Linked DNA regions of Homo sapiens. The protein of the gene in region 1 purifies or fractionates together with the protein of each later gene. This does not show direct contact. Each region holds a gene or a part of one and is shown in the gene's direction. Other genes may lie near its edges. The genes, in order: PGAP3 and VKORC1L1.

Region 1 (10,221 bases):
ACTGGTGCCCCCGTTTTATCTGTGACTCTTTGCTCAGGGAGTAGCTTTGCATGTGGTCTTGAATATAGCTTTGCTTTGCCACCTGAAATAGAAGAGTTGGACAGAATGGTTCCTGGTCACAATATTTTCGGATTTGGTATAGGGACAGTGACCCCTTCAACCCCCATACTTGTCCCTTGAAAGCCCCACTGAGCCATCCTTCTCCTGGATTCTGGATTCCTTGTTTCAGGAGCACTAAGTCTTCCTGCCCGCTTCATTCCACTGATCCACTGGGCCTTTCAGGACATCACTTGCTCACTCGACTTGCTGCTGGAGGTATAGACCACTGGGGTATGAATGAGGGCATTCTTGCCTCTGACTTTTGGTCCAAGGAAGAGGAGACGAGGAACCTTTGAGAAGCATACAACTATGGCAATCACAAAGTCTTGATTTCAGGGGACAATTCGTTTCTGATGGTTTCATTCACTGAACCCACCTGGTTGATTCTTCTCTTCCTTTGCCCTTCAAATCCAATCATTCTTTAAGATCTATCAACTCCTCTTTTTGATACATTTATGCTTATTCTACCTCCATCACCAGCTAGTCTGAGTCTCTATCATTTCTCCTTTGGGCTAAAGCACCAGACTTTGATCACTACCCCTCCACCAGTGCTACTTTTGACACCCTGCAATTCTCCCCGCAGCAACAGCAGCCAAAGTAAATGTTTTATTATTATTTATTTTATTTTATATATACACATATATATGTGTGTGTGTATATATATATACACATATATATGTGTATATATATATATATACACACATATATATATATATATATATATATATATATATATATATATATTTTTTTTTTTTTTTTTTTTTTTTTTTTTTTTTTCTGAGACAGAGTCTCACTGTCACCCAGGCTGGAGCGCAGTGGCATGATGTCGGCTCACTGCAACCTCCGTGTCCCGGATTCGAGTGATTCTCCTGCCTCAGCCTTCCGAGTAGCTGGTATTACTGGGATTATAGCATGCACCACCACATCCAGCTAATTTTTGTATTTTTGATAGAGGCAGCGTTTCTCCGTGTTGGCCAGGCTGGTCTCAAACTCCTGACCTCAGGTGATCTGCCCACCTCGGCCTCCCAAAGTGCTGGGATTATGGGCATGAGCCACTGTGCCCGGCCTATTTATTTTTTAATTGAGACTCCTGACCTCAGGTGATCTGTCCACCTTGGCCTCCCAAAGTGCTGGGATTACAGGCATGAGCCACCACACCCAGCCCTATTATTATTATTATTATTATTATTATTATTATTATTATTTTATTTTCGAGATGGAGTCTCGCTCTGTTGTCCAGGCTGGAATGCAACGGTGCAATCTCAGCTCACTGCAACCTCTGCCTCCCGGGTTCAAGCAATTCTCCTGCCTCAGCCTCCTGAGTAGCTGGGATTACAGAAGCGCACCACCATGCCTGGCTAATTTTTGTATTTTTAGTAGAGGATTGCTTTAGCCCAGAAGTTTTTGGCTGCAGTGAGCCATGATCACACCACGGCATTCCAGGCTGGGCGACAGAGGGAGACCTTGTCACAAAACAAAAAAAACTAATAGTCTACTGTTTACCAGAATACTTATCAATAGCAAACAGTCCATTTACACACATTTTGTATGTGATATGTGTTATATACTGTATTTTTACAATAAAGGAAGCTAGAGAAAAGAAAATGCTACTAAGAAAATCATAAGTAAGAAAAAACATATTTACCATTCATTAAGTGGAAGTGGATCATCACAAAGGTTTTCATCCTCATCATCTTCACATTGAGTAGGCTGAGGAGGGGGAAGAGAAAGGAAAAGAGATGGGGTTGGTCTTGCTATTTTGGGGGTGGCAGAGGTGGAAGAAATGTGAGTATAAATGGACCCGTGCAATTCAAACCTGTGTTGTTCAAGGGTCAACTGTATTTAACTCGATGCTTGCTACTGCATGAAATTGTTTTACATTTTTTCTTTGTGTTTTTGTTTTTGTTTTGAGACAGAGACTTGCTCTGTTGCCCAGGCTGGAGTGCAGTGGTACAGTCTTGGCTCACTGCAATCTCTGCCTCCTAGGTTCAAGCAAGTCTCCCACCTCAGCCTCCCAACCAGCTGGGATTACAGGCACTTGCCATCATGCCTGGCTAATTTTTATGTTTTTGTAGAGATGAGTTTTCACCGTTTTGGTCAGGCCGGTCTTGAACTCCTGACCTCAGGTGATCTGCCGCCGGCCTCGGCCTCCTTAAGGGCTGGGATTACAGGCATGAGCCACCACACTCAGCTTTTCTTTGTTTTTAACTGATTATATACACAGACGGTACACACTTTTAAAGGTACAAAAATAAAAAGCGTTCCTGGCCAGGCACGGTGGCTCACGCCTGTAATCCTAGCACTTTGGGAGGCTGAGGCGGACGGATCACCTGAGGTGGGGAGTTCAAGACCAGCCTGACCAACATGGAGAAACCCCATCTTTACTAAAAATACAAAATTAGCCAGGCGTGGAGGCGCATGCCTATAATCCCAGCTACTCAGGAGGCTGAGGCAGCAGAATCGCTTGAACCTGGGAGGCAGAGGTTGCAGTGAGCTAAGATCGCGCCATTGCACTCCAACCTGGGTAACAAGAGCAAAAACTCCGTTTAAAAAAAAAAAAAAAAAGTGTTCCTTACTTCCCTATTGATCAGGCACATAGTCCCACTTCCCACCAGAGGCAAGAACTATTTCCACTTTCTTTTTTATCTTTCTAGATATATTCTCAAAAATAACAACCATAATACTACGCGCATAACACGTACCCTTATTTTTCTTCACATGGGGTACTGTATATAAGTGTATAGGTGTACATACACATGCATACACACACACATATTTTGTTCTGCACTGTGCACTTGATACTTATCAAAAATATTTGGCCAGGTGTGATGGCTCATGCCTATAATCCCAGCACTTTGGGAGGCTGAGACAGGTGGATCACCTGAGGTCGGGAGTTCAAGACAGCCTTACCAACATGGTGAAGCCCTGTCTCTACTAAAAAATACAAAAATTAGCCGGATGTGGTGGCACACACCTGTAATCCCAGCTACTCGGGAGGCTGAGACACAAGAGATATATATATATATATATATATATGTATATGTATATGTATATGTATATGTATATATATCTATATCTATATCTATATCTATATCTATATCTATCATGAAGGTTTTACCATGCTAGTACATTACAAATCTGCCCCATTCCTATTAATTTCTGTTCAGCCTTCCATTGTATGGCTCTCCCTCCATTAATATAATTCATTCCCTATTGATGGACATTTAGTTGTTTCCTTTTTCTTCTTGCTATTGAAAACAATGACTAATGCTACCACAAATAACTGTACTTAAACAAATTTGCACTTGTTTAGGTATACTGGAGCTTATGTAGGTATACCTAGGAGTGAAATTCCTGGGTTAGAGGGTATGTGTGTGTGTGTGTGTGTGTGTGTGTATATATATATATATATATTTTTTTTTTTAATGTAGATGGAGTCTCGCTCTGTCACCAGGCTGGAGTGCAGTGGCATAATCCAGGCTCACTGCAACCTCCAACTCCCTGGTTCAAGCAATTCTCCTGCCTCAGCTTCCGGAGTAGCTGGGATTACAGGCACGTGCCACCATGCCCAGCTAATTTTTTTGTATTTTTAGTAGAGATGGGGTTTCACCATGTTGGCTAGGATGGTCTCGATCTCCTGATCTCATGATCCGCCTGCCTTGGCCTCCCACAGTGCTGGGATTACAGATGTGAGCCACCGCACCTGGCTTCAGTCTTTTGTTTGACACTTGTTTATGGCCTGTTTCCCTCCTCTGACCATGAAAAGTACAGTGCCTTGTTCATCACTCTGTTCCCAGAGACTTGCACATGGTAAACTTAATAAACATTTGATGAATAAGGAACCCACATTGTAGACTCTCTACCAATTTTGATCTAAGAACATGGTCAGCTTGCCGTTGAGCCTTTAGCACACTATACTTTTTTTTTTTTTTTTGAAACGGAGTTTTGCTCTTGTTGCCCAGGCTGGAGTGCAATGGCACGATCTCAGGAGTTTCTCCATGTTAGGTCAGGCTGGTCTCGAACTCCTGACCTCAGATGATCCACCTGCCTCGCCCTCCCAAAGTGCTGGGATTACAGGCATGAGCCACTGTGCCTGTCCAGCACACTCTACTATTAACATATGCTTTGTCTTTTTTTTCCCCCATGAGTACAATGGCTGATACACAGGAGGACTCAATAAGCCTGAGTTGAAGGAATGAATTAGTGACTTTTCAGACTGTGGATCACATCTGAAGCCAAATACAAGTTAGGAAGAAGGACAAGCTAAGGAGGCTCAGGGGAGAACTAGGGGCTCCAGGCTAGAAAGTTGGGAAGAGAGGCCAGGTAATCGCCATCTAGAGATTGTTATCTGGGGCTGTGCTGGCAGGGAAATTCTCAAGAGCTGTCCCAGAGAGACAGTACCCCATCTTCCAAGAAGTCAACAGAACAGAAGTCTCTACTCCCACTTCCACCATTAACCTAGGATTGCTTTTTCCATCAGGTATGTAGGCATGGGTTTTCAAGGACCTCTGAAATACTTTAGACCCGAACAAATTTCCATTGTTAGTTCTAAAATATAAGAAAGCTGCGAAAATTAATATTTTATGGCCGTGTGGCATGGCTCACGCCCGTAATCCCAGCACTTTGGGAGGTTGAGGCGGGAGGATCACTCGAGCCCAGGAATTGGAGACCAGTCTAGGCAACATAGCAAGACCGTGTCTCTACAAAAAATTAAAAAAATTAGCAGGGCATAGTGGCGCATGCTGCAGTCCCAGCTACTCAGGAGGCTGAGATGGAAGGATCACTTGAGTCTGGGAGGTTGAGGTTGCAGTGAGTCGTGATCATGCCACTGCACTTCAGTCTAGGTGAAAGAGTGAGAGGCTGTCTGGGAAAAAAAATTTTTTTTAACTAAATGTATATAAATGTAGCAATATGTCAACTATTAACAGCAATTAGATTGAATTATATATATGTATAGTTATTTATAAATCTTATTTAATGTGGGGCGTTACTGCATTTCAGTATGTTTGACATAATATAGGATGAGGCCTTCAAAATTGGAATTTTCTTTTTCTTTTTTTTTTTTTTTTTGAGTTTCGCTCTTGTTGCCCAGGCTGGAGTGCGATGGCGCAATCTTGGCTCACCACAACCTCTGCCTCCCTGGGTTCAAGCGATTCTCCTGCCTCAGCCTCCTGAGTAGCTGGGATTACAGGCATGCACCACCACACCCAACTAATTTTGTATTTTTAGTAGAGATGGGGTTTCTCCATGTTGGTCAGGCTGGTCTCAAACTCCTAACCTCAGGTGATCCGTCCGCCTCGGCCTCCCAAAGTGCTGGGATTACAGGCGTGAGCCACCACCCCCAGCCTTACTTAGGAATTTTCTAAAGGGGAGACTCCCTATTTTGTCAGGATTTCATCCTCTTTAATCCTAAATGTCCATCTTTATATGAGGATCCTCATAAAAAGACTCATCCCAGAGTCACAGAAAGGACAAAATGAAATGAAAAAAGAAAAAAAAACAGTATTGTAAAAGAACTAATCTGTAAGATGCAAAGTAGTATTAGCACTGGATTTCCGGTCAGCTCCTGGAGGGCTAAGGGGTTGTTTTGTTCATTTCAGCTTCTCAGTCAGTATCAGTTGGGTGGTCAACTCCAGGGGACACTATTCATGTTATATTTAACTGGAAGAATTTGCCATTCACAGAAAAGGCAATGTGAATGCTGCTCCCCAGAGCACCATTCACAGAAAATGCAATGTGAATGGTGCCTCCTGGAGATTTTGCCTTGCTTAGCAAGGTGCTAGAGCTAAGGACTCAGAAATGTTTGTTAAGTGAGTGAATGGAATCCCAGGCTACTTCTTACTCATTCCAACCCCCAGGACGAAAAAGAAAAGTTGACAAGGGGTGAGGAGAGTGGGGGAGGAGAAAGGGTGATCCTTAGCTACAAGGCTTCTATGAGATTGGGTGTGGGTCGGTGCTGATGGGAGTGCAGGGGAGGTGAGCAGGGAGAGGATACTAAAGCAAGCGTCCTGTTCCCAGGGTTCCTAATTTTCCTAGAAATATTACTTCTCTCCGATCTCAGTGCAGAACCATACTGATGATTTTACAGCCCTGGATTTGTCAAGTTCTTATGTTGATGTATGCTGTTCATTCATTAAACAGAAGAACAAACAAACGCAGTTAGCGCCTACCATAAGCCAAATTCTGTGCTGGAGGTAGAGTGGTGAACAGGACAGCAAAGGTTCTACCCCGCATGGGGAAGCAATCACCCTCGGGAGGTGGTACTTCAATTGCGACTAGAAGAAAAAAGAAGAGTGAGTGATTCAGACCAGGCCAGGCAGTCAGGAAGCTTGAGGGACATAGCCCTCTGAAGCGGGTCTGGAGCAAGGGAGTGAGGGAGACCAGTGGACAGGGGCCAAATCAGGCAGGGTTTGTGGAGACTGTATTTTACCCAAGGTAATTGGGAGCCAGTAAATAATTTTAAGAAAAAAAAAGTGATATGGGCAAATTTTAATTTTTCAAAATGGAGCGCAGGTTGGAAGAGGCAAAAGTAGAGGCAGGGAGAGCCATTAAGAAGCTACTGCGGCTGTCTTGGCGACACATGATGGTGTCTTTAACCAGGGTGGTGCCAGAAGAGATGGAGAGAAGTGGATAGTTACAGGTACGTTTAGGAAGTAAAATCCGACAGGGGTGGTGACAGTAAACAGCCCTACCTCAAAAAAGATCATGGAAAACACTTCAGTTTGCTCATTAACCCATCAGGCGTCCGCCTTCCCTTAACCCTATCGCCTCGATATATGGACACAGCAGGGGGACGAGGGGCGGGGCAGGCGCCCACAAAAATCCGGGAACTTTAATTTAAACTGTGTGGACTTCAGCGGAGAGTAGAATAAAGAACACAGGAACTTCCGGTTACTCCGGAAGTGGAAGCTTCATACTCCTAAGCTCCTCCCCCGGCGGCGAGCCAGGGAGAAAGGATGGCCGGCCTGGCGGCGCGGTTGGTCCTGCTAGCTGGGGCAGCGGCGCTGGCGAGCGGCTCCCAGGGCGACCGTGAGCCGGTGTACCGCGACTGCGTACTGCAGTGCGAAGAGCAGAACTGCTCTGGGGGCGCTCTGAATCACTTCCGCTCCCGCCAGCCAATCTACATGAGTCTAGCAGGTAAGCCCCACCCCCACGGTAAGCCCCGCCCATTTGTCTTGCTCCCGCCCCCTGCGCCCCCAATACGCCTCTGCAATCCCTGAACCTTAGTTTCCCCACGAGGTCTCTTATGAATGTGAGTGAAGCCCCTAAGGTGATGAGAGCCTTACCAGCCTCTCTTACTTTCCCAGAAGCTTTCATTTACTTATTTGTTCAGTCAAAAGGGTATTTATTAAATACATTCGGGCCACAATGTCTAGGAATGGCACAGAAATCAGACCAGGGTCCCGCCCATTGGGACTCACAGTCCCCACGGGGACATGAGCCTTTTCAAGTGCAAGGCAGAGAATGATTTGAGCCCCTGAAAGACTCTTTGATTAGGAAGCATTTGGGATAGGAAGGTGTCAGTTCCGGCTTTGAAGACGTGGGGGCAGGGATCATCTTGGAACGTTTTGTTTGAAGGAGGGACTTTGGACTGGTACATTCGATTTGGACCATAGTGGGCAAAGAACCAACGTATTGAGCACTCACTGTGTGACAGGTGTCACAATATGTCAAGTAATTTTTATCACACCCTTTGAGATAGTTTCTCTAATCCCAGTTTTACAGATGGGGATTAGAGAGATTAAATGCCCTGCCCAAGGTCACACAGCCAGTATGTAGTAAAGTGGAGTTTCCAGTTCTGGCCTGTTTGACCACAAGCTTGTCCTCTTTACTATTATACCACTTTGCATTCCAGACAGAGGGAACAGAGAGAATGGATGCCCTGGGCAGATGTGGGCACATCCAGGAGCTTTATTTACTCAGGGAGCAGGGTACATGAACAGGAGTAGTGACCAATACGGTTGGAAAGGCAATTTGGAGCCTCAAAAGTCAGGTTGAAGAATTTGGGCTTCATTTTCATAGGAAGGGAGTAAGATAGCAAGAACTCCTTCCAGGAGAGTAAGAGCAAATCCTATATTCAGGAAGGACAAATATAAACCCAGGTTTCCATAGATGAGTTCATCAGATGCCAACATCTTGATGGACTTGAGCAAAAGGAGAGGAAATGTCTGCCAAGGTAGAAAGATCATCTGAGCCCTGGAGTTCAAGACTAGCCTAGGCAACATGACAAGATGCCTTCTCTACAAAAAATAAAAGAATTAGCCAGACATTGTGGTCTCGCTACTTGGGAGGCTGAGGTGGGAGGATCGTTTGAGCCCAGGAGGTCAAGGCTGTGGTGAGCCATGCTCTCCCCACTGCACTCCAGCCTGGATGAAAGAGCGAGACCCTGTCTCAAAAAAAAAAAAAAAAAAAAAATGCCGGGTGCGGTGGCTCGTGCCTGCAATCCCCGCACTTTAGGTGGCAGAGGCAGGCAGATAACCTGAGGTTGGGAGTTCAAGACCACCCTGACCAACATGGAGAAACCCCATCTCTACTAAAAATACAAAATTAGTTGGGTGTGGTGGTGCATGCCTGTAATCCCAGCTACTCGGGAGCCTGAGGCAGGAGAATCGCTTGAACCCAGGAGGCGGAGGTTGCAGTGAACCGAGATCGCACCATTGCACTCCAGCCTGGGCAACAAAAACAAAACTGTCTCAAAAAAACAAACAAAAAAAAGACGAATATCTCTAATTGCTCACTAAAATATGCATACATACGTACATACACCTTCCCCTATGTGTACATCTCATCATCTCTCATTCATTCAAAGGGGAAGCTAGAATTTTGAGATTTCTCCTGGTTCTCTCCAACTTACAGGCCCTCTTGGCCTACATTTGCGCTTGGACCCCATTCATGCTCTCTCTTTCCTCTCTGTGCTGGGGAGTTCACCAGGCCACATTTGTCTGTTTCAGGCTGGACCTGTCGGGACGACTGTAAGTATGAGTGTATGTGGGTCACCGTTGGGCTCTACCTCCAGGAAGGTCACAAAGTGCCTCAGTTCCATGGCAAGGTGAGTTGGAGGGTCAGGGTAGGCATATGGTAGTAGCGTGGTAGGAGTAATATACCCCCTGGTTGGACCACACTGTCCAAGCAGTCTGAGGCATGGGGTAATGCGTGTGTGTTTGGGGCAGCTACCTGTTCTCCCCAAAATCTGCTGGTTTCCATAGAATTGGATAGGACCCATGTGTCCTGCCTCTGGATTTGGAGTAGCAATATCTGGAAGGCTTTGGAGTCTCCCCAGAGAGTGGTGCTGGGCCTCTTAGAGTGGTTGAGATGCCCACCTTACTGCAGGGACAAATTCCCTTACCTACTGTGGCTTGTTTCCTGTTGCTTCTCCAGTAGGGGTCTGGATTCACAGTAATATGCTTCAGCTTGTCTAGCGAGGCACAGTTTGCTGGTACCTTTCTTTCTTTTGTTTTTTGTTTTTTGTTTTTTTTTTTGAGATGGAGTCTCCCTCTGTCGCCCAGGCTGGAGTGCAGTGGCATGATCTTGGCTCACTGCAACCTCTACCTCCCAGGTTCAAGCAATTCTCATGCCTGAGCCTCCCAAGTAGCTGGGACTACAGGTGTGTGCCACCACACCCAGCTAATTTTTTGTATTTTTTTTTTTTTTTTTTTAAGTAGAGATGGGGTTTCACCATGTTAGCCAGGATGGTCTCAATCTCCTGACCTTGTGACCCTCTCGCCTCAGCTTCCCAAAGTGCTGGGATTACAGGCGTGAGCCACCGCGCCTGGCCTGCTGGTACGTTTCAATCCAGTATTATCTCATTCTGGCCTGTTGAGGTTGGCAGGAAGTATTCACCCCAGTTTTTCACAGAGTAAGCTGAGGCTCAAAGGACCGTGGTCAGTGGTAGAGGAGGGGTTGGGACCTGTGTCTTCTGGATGGCAACTCTGTGCTGTTTCCACCAGGCCATACTGAGTCATCTACCCTGACCCATCTGGTCTTCCCAGAGATCAGGGCTTACAGTGCTGTGCCTGCTGGCCAGGATGGGGGTATAACTCTTAACTAGGCACTGGAGGGTGGCTCATTAGTCTGAAGAGGTACTGAACCTGAGGCTTTGGCCAAACTCCAGAGCTGAGGACT
Region 2 (10,310 bases), on another chromosome or scaffold:
TCATGAGGTCAGGAGTTCAAGACCAGCCTGGCCAACATGGTGAAACCCCGTCTCTACCAAAAATACAAAAATTAGCTGGGTGTGGTGGCATGTGCCTATAGTCCCAGCTACTCGGGAGGCTGAGGCAGGAGAATTGCTTGAACCTGGGAGGCAGAGGTTGCAGTGAGCCAAGACCACACCATTGCACCCCAGCCTGGGCAACAGAATGAGACTCCATCTCAAATAAATAAATAAAATATAAATAAATAATTTTTAAAAATTGACTTGTCTTTAAAAAAGTGTATTTAGCATACACTCTAAATATTCTCATAGTTATATCCTGCAAGAGCTGCATGTTTGTGCATAAAACATCAAGTAGTATATTAAAAGTATGTATAAGTACATGTAAGACTAAAGGTAACTGGATCTCTTTATAGTTTTAAATGTGAATTTAATATGTTGTGACTGAAAGTGATGTTTCATTGTGTAGCTGTGGACATAAAATAGTTTAACTTAGATGCTTGCCAAAGGAGGGTAGGTAAAAATAAGATTTGCTAATAAGAAGAGTAGATAACTTATTTGCCATGTATACAGTGAAATTAAGAAATTTGTTCAATTTGATCAGCCTGTTTATAAACTACTTGCAAAAATCAAGTAGCTTATAAACTACCCATTTAATAAATGAATTTACAAATCAACTTGTTTTGCAGGTAGTTTATATGCAGGCTGATCAAAATCACATATGTATATATACATATATAATCACATATATGTACATATATAGACTCATTTTCTTTTGGAAGTGTGTAGACAAAACATCATTGAAAGTTTTTATTTTGTCAAGCTGAAAGACACTTTTCTTTTTTTTTCTGAGACGGAGTCTTGCTCTGTCACACAGGCTGGAGTGCAGTGGTGCGATCTCGACTCACTGCAACCTCCACCTCCCGGGTTCACTCCATTCTCCTGCCTCAGCCTCCTGAGTAGCTGGGACTACAGGCGCCCGCCACAACGCCCTGCTAATTTTTTGTATTTTTGGTAGAGACGGGGTTTCACCATGTTAGCCAGGATGGTCTCGATCTCCTGACCTCGTGATCCGCCCTCCTCGGCCTCCCAAAGTGCTGGGATTACAGACGTGAGCCACCGCGCCTAGCCTGAAACAGACTTTAAATGAAAGCTGATTATTGGACACCTCAAGTTAGTTTTTTTTGAGTGGTGATTGCCATGTAGCAGTAGTACTCAAATATGTGACTCTTTTAGGAAAAGAAAGTTTGAGCCCAGAGGAAAGTTAACAGACAAAGATTCTGAAGAAAATCATCTTCCAGGATCCAGAGTCAGCACGTGGTTTTGGATTGCTCAAACTCACTTTATTCTCATTTCGCAAGCCCTGTGTCTTAATCCAAACACGGTAAGGTAGAGATTAATGAGAGAATCTTGAGAGGCAGGTGTTATCTGTGTGTAAAGTCCTCTATTATTTTGGGGAGGCATAATGATGGAAAGTTCCAGATTTTATATTTCTAAAGAAATATTTCACCGAAATTAGTAGGCTACAATAGAAATGCTGATTTTTCAATTCTACCATGTACAGCCAGTAAAAACAATAACACACCACTATCTCCTGTCACCATCATTTCATTTAACAAAAGGATATTTCCATTCAAACAATTTGAAAGAACAGAATCTCTCAGAATAAAATATTTTTAAATGGAATCATTTAGCTATATGGAAAAGTTTACTTTCAGACCAGCCTGGCCAACATGCTGAAACCCCGTCTCTACTAAAAATACAAAACAAGCTGGGCGTGGTAGCATGCACCTGTAATCCCAGCTACTCGGGAGGCTGAGGCAGGAGAATCACTTGAACCTGGGATGCAGAGGTTGCAGTAAGCCAAGATCGCGCCATTGCACTCCAGCCTGTGTGACAGAACGAGACTCTGTCTTTAAAAAAAAAAAAAAAAAGTTTACTTTCGTGTCCTTACTTTTTCCCATTTTCCCATAAATCGGTGAAAACTCTGCTGCAAACCTGCACCAGCCTGCCAGCTAACATTCAGTTAGCAGTCCCTGCCCCCTTGGTTTGGTACACTGAGCTCAAATCTAAGGGATCTGGGTGGGCTTCCACCTCTCCCAGTTCTTAGGCTTGTGGCCTTATCTTCATGGTGCCTCAGTTTCTTATGTTAAATAGGGCTTTTAACACCTACTTAGGGCCTGGTGCAGTGGCTCACACCTGTAATCCCAGCAGTTTGGGACGCTGACACCTGGCAGACCTCTTGAGCTCAGGAGTTTCAGACCAGCCTGGGCAACAGGGCAAAACCGTGTCTTTACAAAAAATACAAACGTTAACCGGGCATGGTGGCGCATGCCTGTATTTCCAGCTTCTTGGGAGGCTGAGGTGTGAGGATCACTTGAGCCTGAGAGGCTGAGGTCTGCAGTGAGCCATGATGGTGCCACTGCACTCCAGCCTGGGTGGTAGAGAGAGACCCTGTCTCAAAAAAAGAAAAACAAAAAAACCTACTTTGCCAGATTAGTGTTACGATGAAAAGTGATACATGTATGTTCCTGAAATAAAGCCTGTCCTCAGTTATAGCTGTTACCATTGATTGGAGATGTTCTTTTTTTTCCAGTGTTTGATAATAAATGCCTTTAAGTATAAGTTTCTTGTACATACTTGTTTATATGTTTAAACATTAATTGTTTTAATGTAGTTTATTGCTGACTTTATAGCATAGTATAAAGATGTGTTCATTTAAAACAATTTTGAAGTTGTGCAAGAGAAACTAATGCAGAATATTCTTTTTTTTTTTTTTGATGGAGTCTCGCTGCTCTGTCACCCGGACTGGAGTGCAGTGGCATGATCTCAGCTCACTGCAACCTCCACCTCCCGGGTTCAAGCGATTCTCCTACCTCAGCCTCCCAAGGAGCTGGGATTACAGGTGCCCACCACCATGCCCGGCTAATTTTTGTATTTTTAGTAGAGACAGGGTCTTGCCATGTTGGCCAGGCTGGTCTTAAACTCCTGACCTCAGGTGATCTGCCTGCCTCAGCCTCCGAAAGTGCTGAGATTATAGGCATCAGCCACCGTGTCCAGCTGTAATATGCAGAATATTCTATGTAGGTATTTTCTATATATAAGACCCCCTCTAAGAAGGGTTTCTATGTAAGAATAGTACAAATGATCTGGAAAGGTTAATAGGCTTGACAAATCTATGTTTCTTAAAACTGTAAAAATAGTCTGGTTGTCCTATGGTCTATGTATAGAACATATACCATAGGGGATTGGTTTCAGGACCCCTGTTTTTACTGAGATCCTGGCATACTCAAGTCCCCACTGTGGGCCCTGCAGAACCTGAATGTGAAAATTTGGGCCTCCATATATGCAGGTTTCGGTCTGCATTTGGTTGAAAAAGATCCACGTATAAGTGAGCACACACAGCTTAAACCCGTGTTGTTCAAGGGTCCACTGCATTTGAAAATCAAGTCCATAAAAAAGTTGCCTTATTTTACAAAATGTCGGATTACTACCTCTCCCATATCTTAAAAAAAAAGTACCATCTATTTACTACCCCATTGAGATAATAAAACTTTTAGAATTAGAATAGAACCTAGGGCTGGGCATAGTGGTTCACGCCTGTAATCCCAGCACTTTGGGAGGCTGAGGTGGGTGGATCACCTGAGTTCAGGAGTTTGAGACCAGCCTGGCCAATATGGTGAAACCCCTTGTCTACTAAAAATACAAAAAATTAGCCGGGCATGGTGGTGGGCACCTGTAATTCCAGCTACTCGGGAGGCTGAGGCAGGAGAATCACTTGAACCCGGGAGGTGGAGGTAGCAGTAAGCCGAGATTGTGCCACTGCCCTCCTGCCTGGGCAATAAGAGGGAAACTCTGTCTTACAAAAAAAAAAAAGAACCTAGAAGTATTTACTGCTCTTTGCTTTGTCTGAGACTCAGAGGTTAAGTGACTTGCCCAAGATAGCACAGGTAGTAGCAAATTGAGACTTGACACCTGGCTTCCAGAGTACTTATTTAAAGTCCCCTTTGCACCCCCATTTTAAAAATTAAATTCTTGGCTGGACGCAGTGGCTCACGCCTGTAATCTCAGCACTTTGGGAGGCCGAGGTGGGCGGATCACGAGGTCGGGAGATCAAGACCATCCTGGCTAACATGGTGAAACCCCGTCTCTACTAAAAATACAAAAAAAATTAGCCAGACATGGTGGCACACGCCTGTAGTCCCAGCTACTTGAGAGGGGCTGAGGCAGGAGAATCACTTGAACCCGGGAGGTGGAGGTTGTGGTGAGCTGAGGTCGTGCCACTGCACTCCAGACTGGGTGACAGAGTGAGACTCTGTCTCAAAAAAAAAGAAAAATTAAATTCTTGTCTAGGTAAGGCATTCGCTGCTTCGGATTTGAAAGATAACAAAGCATGTACAGTGAAAAGTCTCCTTCATATCCCTTCCACCAGACAGTTCTCCCGCTCAGTAGACCGCTGTGAAACTTTTCAGAGCCGTTTGACACATAGACAAACATCCACGTGACCATATGATTCCTCCCTTTTTTTAACATGGAAGTATCACGTATGCATCCTTATTGATAGCCTGCTTTTTGCTTGGCATTCGTTCCATTGCTCCCATACTTTAAATGCTTATGTTCATATTTAGTGAAATGTTAATAACTGCTAGTACGTAAAAGAGAATTTGTTCTAGTAGTTTTGACTAACCAAGATAAATTTCAGAAATAAAATTCTTAACATTATCATTGTTTCTTGGTATGGAAATTTCAGAAGCAGGTTGAACTGAAAAGAGTCCAAGAGGAATAGAGAAATATCACAAGGAAGTGAATCTGGACTGTAGTAGAGATAAATGTTAATACTTACAGATAATGCTTACTATGTGCTAGGCAGTGTTCTAAATGTTTTGCATACATTATTGAAGTCTCTCAAGAGTCCCATGAGGCAGGTAGCTTTTATCACCATTTTACACATGAGAAAACTGAGCAACGCAGACTAACACTTGATCCAGGTAGTACAGTGGCAGAGGCCTGATTCTAACCCAGGCAGTCTGGCTCAAGAGTCCAAGCTCTTTACCACTACTCTTTCGTCTTCCTTTCTTCCTTTCCCTCCCACCCTCCTTCTTCCTTTCCTTTCTTTTCTCTCTTTCTTTTCCTTCCTTCTTTTCTTTCTTTTTCCTTCCTTCCTTCCTTTTCTTTATTTTTCCTTCTTCCTTCCTCCTTCGTTCCTTGCTTCCTTCTTTCCTTTTCTTTTTCTTTCCTTTCCTTTTTTTTTCTTTCCTTTCTTTTCTTTCTTCTTTAACTTTTTGAGACATTGTCTCACTCTGTCTCCCCAGGCTGAGTGCAGTGGTGCAGTCATGGCTCACTGCAGCCTCAACCTCCCTGGGTCAAGTGATCCTCCAACCTCAGCTTCCTGAGTAGCTGGGTCTACAGTTGCACACCCCACCATGCCTAGCTAATTTTTTCTATTTTTCATAGTGACGAGGTCTCACTTTGTTGCCTGAGTTGGTCTCAAACTCCTGGCCTCAAGCAGTCTTCCCACTTGGCCTCCCAAAGTGCTGAGATTACAGGTGTGAGCCACCACGCCCAGCCTTTTACCACTACTTTAAATTCCATTTAGATCTAATATTGATAGAGTGATAACCATATCAACCAGATTTTTTAAATATGCAAACAATGGTGCCAGTTTCTGTATCTATGTGACAAAAATATATAGAGTTTGTGGTATCACTTTTACCTGTTTAGAGCACTCTTTGGAAAGGCAGGGAAATTACTGTGAAGGTATTGGTATTCCAGAAGTAAGTTCCTGGAGTGTTTGCCTTCTAAGGTGTGAGGACGTGGTTTGTCACACCCAGTTAACTAACAGATAGACGGTGTAGTGAGCTGTCCGGAAGACTTAGCAGGTTAGCCTAGGGAGGAAGGAGAAAGGGGTTCTGGGCACATGGAGGGAGGGGGAGGGAAAAGAGTTTGTTTGAATCTGTCCTAGATTGGGGTAGCTTTTTCGGAGGGAGGCCTTGTCGTGTGGACCTGCTGCATATAAAGACAGGAGAATTGGACCTGAGGTGTGGTGCTAGCTAAAGCGCCACACAGATCTGGGAATTTAAGAGGAGTTCATTTCCTCAATCATTAGGAAGAACTTGAAAGGGTAGCAAACTGTGGTCATTTGAGAAGAACAGCAAGTGGTCATATTTGAATGTAACATATTCAACTGGGTTGGGAAAGAACCAGAATCTAGATCTTGCCCATAGCAAGTGCAAAACCAGGCGTTCTTATAAACCATGTACTCTTGTAAACACTGATAAGACATAGCACTGAGTCCTGAGCTTTTCTTCTATAAAGTTATTGTACAGGTTGAGGATCCCTAATCCGAAAATCCAAAATCTGAAATGCCCCTGTGAGCATTTCCGTTGAGTGTCATTGGCACTCAAAGTTTTGGATTTTGGACCATTTCAGATTTTGAACTTTCAGATTTGGGATGCTCAACCGGTATATAATGCACATATTCCCAAATCTGAAAAAATCCCAAATCCAAAGCATTTCAGCTCCAAAGTGTTTCAGATAAGGAATATTCAACCTGTACTACATTGTACTAGGCTTGTATTAGATTCCCAGTTTTCAAAATTTGTATCTCAGAATCCCTGTTCTCTGTCAATGAAACAGGGATTTCATACACCTTTGATTCACATTTTAATGTTTTAAGTTTAAAATATTATAAATGTTTATACACAGTCAAATGAATCTCATGCTAAATTTTAATATATTAGAGACAACTGATTTGTCTGCCAGGTTATCTCAAGAGAGTTAATACTGAGTGAAAACAAGTGAGAACCCTAAAAGATTACATACTGTATGATTGCATTTATGTAACATTATTGAAATAACAAACCTGCAGAGATGGAGAACAGATTTAGTGGTTGCTAGGAGTTAGGAATGGGAGGTGAGGGGTGGTGTGGTTATAAAGTGGTAGCATGAGGGAGCTGTGTAGGGATGGAACAGTTCAATGTCTCAGGTGTGATTATACAAAGCTGCAAATGTGATAAAAACTTCATACAACCACACACACACATACTGCATATAAATCCTAGCGTACTCAAGTCCCATTTTGCATACAAAACTGGTGAAACCTGAATAAACTCAGGATTGGAGGAATTTGGGCGAGGGTACTTGGGACCTCCCTGTGTACTTTTTTGTAAATTCCTGTGATTTATAATTATAGTAATTTTAAAATAAAAAGTTGGCCAGGCACAGTGGCTCATGCCTGTAATCCCAGCACTTTGGGAGGCTGAGGCGGATGTATCACGTGAGGTCAGGAGTTCAAGACCAGCTTGGCCAACATGGTGAAACCCCATCTCTACTAAAAATACAAAAATTAGCCGGGCATGGTAGTGGGTGCCTGTAGTCTGAGCTACCTGGGAGGCTGAGGCAGGAGAATCACTTGAACCTGGGAGGCAGAGGTTGCAGTGAGCTGAGATCATGCCACTGCACTCCAGCCTGAGCGACAGAGCAAACTCTGTCTCAAGAAAATAAAATAAAATAGACTGGGTGTAGTGGCTCACGCCTGTAACCCCAGCACTTTGGGAGACTGAGGCGGGTGGATCACCTGAGGTCGGGAGTTGGAGACCAGCCTGACCAACATGGTGAAACCCCATCTCTACTAAAAATACAAAATTAGTCGGGCATGGTGGTGCATGCCTGTAATCTCAGCTACTCGGGAGGCTGAGACAGGAGAGTTGCTTGAACCCAGGAGGCAGAGGTTGCAGTGAGCCAAGATCACGCCATTGCACTCCAGCCTGGGCAACAAGAGTGAAACTCCGTCTGAAAAATAAAATAAAATAAAATAAAAAGTAAAAAAGCAAAAAAAAAAAAAAAGTGCATTTAGAATATTTGAGAGAAAATAAGCAAAAGGAAGAAAATGTAAATTATCTATAATGCTTACACCCAGGACAATAATCCTTGGAATAGAGTGTCTCACTTTGTGTATAGAAATGAAACTTTTAAAATGCCATTTTATTTTTTAATTAAAATTTTTTCTTTCCTTTTTTTTCCTCCTCAGAGTTAGAAAGGATAAAAATGTTATTGATTAGTAAGACTGTAGCTTTATGTTGATATTTTGAAATTTTAGGCTAGTGCTTGTTTGTTCATGTAACATATAAGCACATTCAGTACTATTAGAACTGTTGCATTATGCAATAACATGACTGCCTAATGCATATATCAGGATTAGTACATATTGTAAAGTTTTTATTTTTTACCAAAATGTTTACGACTACCAAGTATTCATTCCTTAACACTATTACATAATTAATTTAGAAATGTTTTACTTTTAAAACTTCTGGACAGGTGTAATTAAATCCTTAGATAGCGTTAATGTACTATTTAAAAAACACACACAAAACATTATCATTGGCAAAACATGCTTTATCATCTATTCATCTTTGTGAATCCGGTTTTTCTTGATACCATGCCATCAAAACAAAACAAATTTGACATAAGACTGCCCAATCATCCATAATTTAAAGTTGGTGTTCGTCAGAAGAATTTTATTGTTCTCATTATACATGTTATACATTTGAGCTTTTTTTTTTTTTTTTTTTTTTGGAGATGGAGTCTCACTCTGTCACCCAGGCTGGAATGCAGTGGTGCCATCTCGGCTCACTGCAACCTCCACCTCCCAGCTTCAAGCGATTTTCCTGCTTCAGCCTCCTGAGTAGCTGGAACTACAGGCATGTGCCACCATGCCTGGCTGATTTTTTGTGTGTGTATATTTTTAGTAGAGACGGGGTTTCACCATGTTGGTCAGGCTCGTCTCGAACTCCTGACCTCAAATGATCCACCCCCACTTGGCCTCCCAAAGTGCTGCAATTACAGGCATGAGCCACCACACCCGGCCACATTTGAGCTTTAAAATACATTGATAGAATAAAATACTGCTTTAATCTTTTTTTGTTTGTTTTTTGAGACGGAGTTTCACTCTTTCACCCAGGCTGGAGTGCAGTGGCGGGTTCTCGGCTCACTGCAACCTCTGCCTTCCAGTTTCAAGTGATTCTCCTGCCTCAGGCTCCCGAGTAGCTGGGATTACAGGCACCTGCCACCAAACCCGGCTAATTTTTGTATTTTTAATAGAGATGGGGTTTCACCATGTTGGCCAGGCTGGTCTCGACCTCCTGACCTCGTAATCTGCCCGCCTCGGCCTCCCAAAGTGCTGGGATTACAGGTGCAAGCCACCACACCCAGCCTAATCTGTTTATGTTATAGATGCACATAAAATTTCATTTAGAAAAATGTTCTTGTAGTGCAATATTTAAAGCTATTGAATTACGATTCATAAGTTTTATTTTGTAGTTAGCATCTCTAACTAGGGGAATTTCAGGGACACTGTTGGCTGTCTTGTGATTACCGATCCTTTTAAAAACTCATCGTATTTGAGAAGTAAAGTAGTAGAAAATCTATGACAAAATCAGGAATTAAAGTAGACAGTATACTCAACTCCACTGTGTTTAAAGTGTTTGATTAATTTCTATACATTGTGCCAGTGGTTAAGATCTGGGACTCTAGAGTCAACCTGAGTTGAAATCTTGGCTCTGTCACTTGATCTCTTGTCTCAGCTTCTTCCTCCATAAAATGAGGGTAGTAATAGTGTTAACTCATAGGATTATTGTGACTATGAAGTGTACCAGTACATGTAAATAGTCCTGGTGTCTGGCATAAAGGTACTCATAAAACATAGTTACTGTTATTTTAGAACATGGTTTAGATCTTGCTGTATGTTTAATTTGTCTTTTCCTCACTTAACATGTCACAGCAGGGCACGGTGGCCATAATCCCAGCACTTTGGGAGGCTGAGGCAGGTGGATCATCTGAGGTCAGGAGTTTGAGACCAGCCTGGCCAACGTGGTGAAACCCCGTCTCTACTAAAAATACAAAAATTAGCTAGGCATGGTAATTCACACTGATGGTCCCAGCTACTTGGGAAGCTGAGGCAGGAGAATTGCTTGCACTGGGGAGGCAGAAGTTGCAGTGAGCCGAGATCATGCCATTGTACTTCAGCCTGGGCGACAGAGTGAGACTGTCTCAAAAAAAAGAAAATATTACCACTATTTTCCCATGTTGTTAAAAATTCCACCAGTAATGGAATAGAATATTAGGTGCCCTGTGCCCTTGCCAAATTGGGCATTCTCATTTTTTAGATATTTGCCAATATGATATATGAAAATTGTCATGTTATTGTTTTGATTTGCATTTTCCCCAAGCATCAGCAAGATTTAATGGTTTCACATTTAAAAAATTTATTTTTTAATTTATAATCACCTTGTTTGATAATGAGGTTTTCATGT

Evidence for each region.
Region 2: the proteins of PGAP3 (region 1) and VKORC1L1 purify together in Homo sapiens (affinity purification with mass spectrometry; 2 studies listed by BioGRID and IntAct, with this or other methods). This does not show direct contact.

The regions. Positions count from the first base shown.
Region 1 is NC_000017.11:39,684,849-39,695,069, reverse strand, and holds the start of PGAP3 (GPI-specific phospholipase A2-like PGAP3 isoform 1 precursor), read left to right. Parts: upstream 1-7,012; 5' UTR 7,013-7,055; coding exon 7,056-7,236; intron 7,237-9,050; coding exon 9,051-9,148; intron 9,149-10,221. UniProt on the Homo sapiens protein: Involved in the fatty acid remodeling steps of GPI-anchor maturation where the unsaturated acyl chain at sn-2 of inositol phosphate is replaced by a saturated stearoyl chain.
Region 2 is NC_000007.14:65,874,586-65,884,895, forward strand, and holds part of VKORC1L1 (vitamin K epoxide reductase complex subunit 1-like protein 1), read left to right. Parts: intron 1-1,236; coding exon of another isoform or gene 1,237-1,384; intron 1,385-10,310. UniProt on the Homo sapiens protein: Involved in vitamin K metabolism. Can reduce inactive vitamin K 2,3-epoxide to active vitamin K, and may contribute to vitamin K-mediated protection against oxidative stress.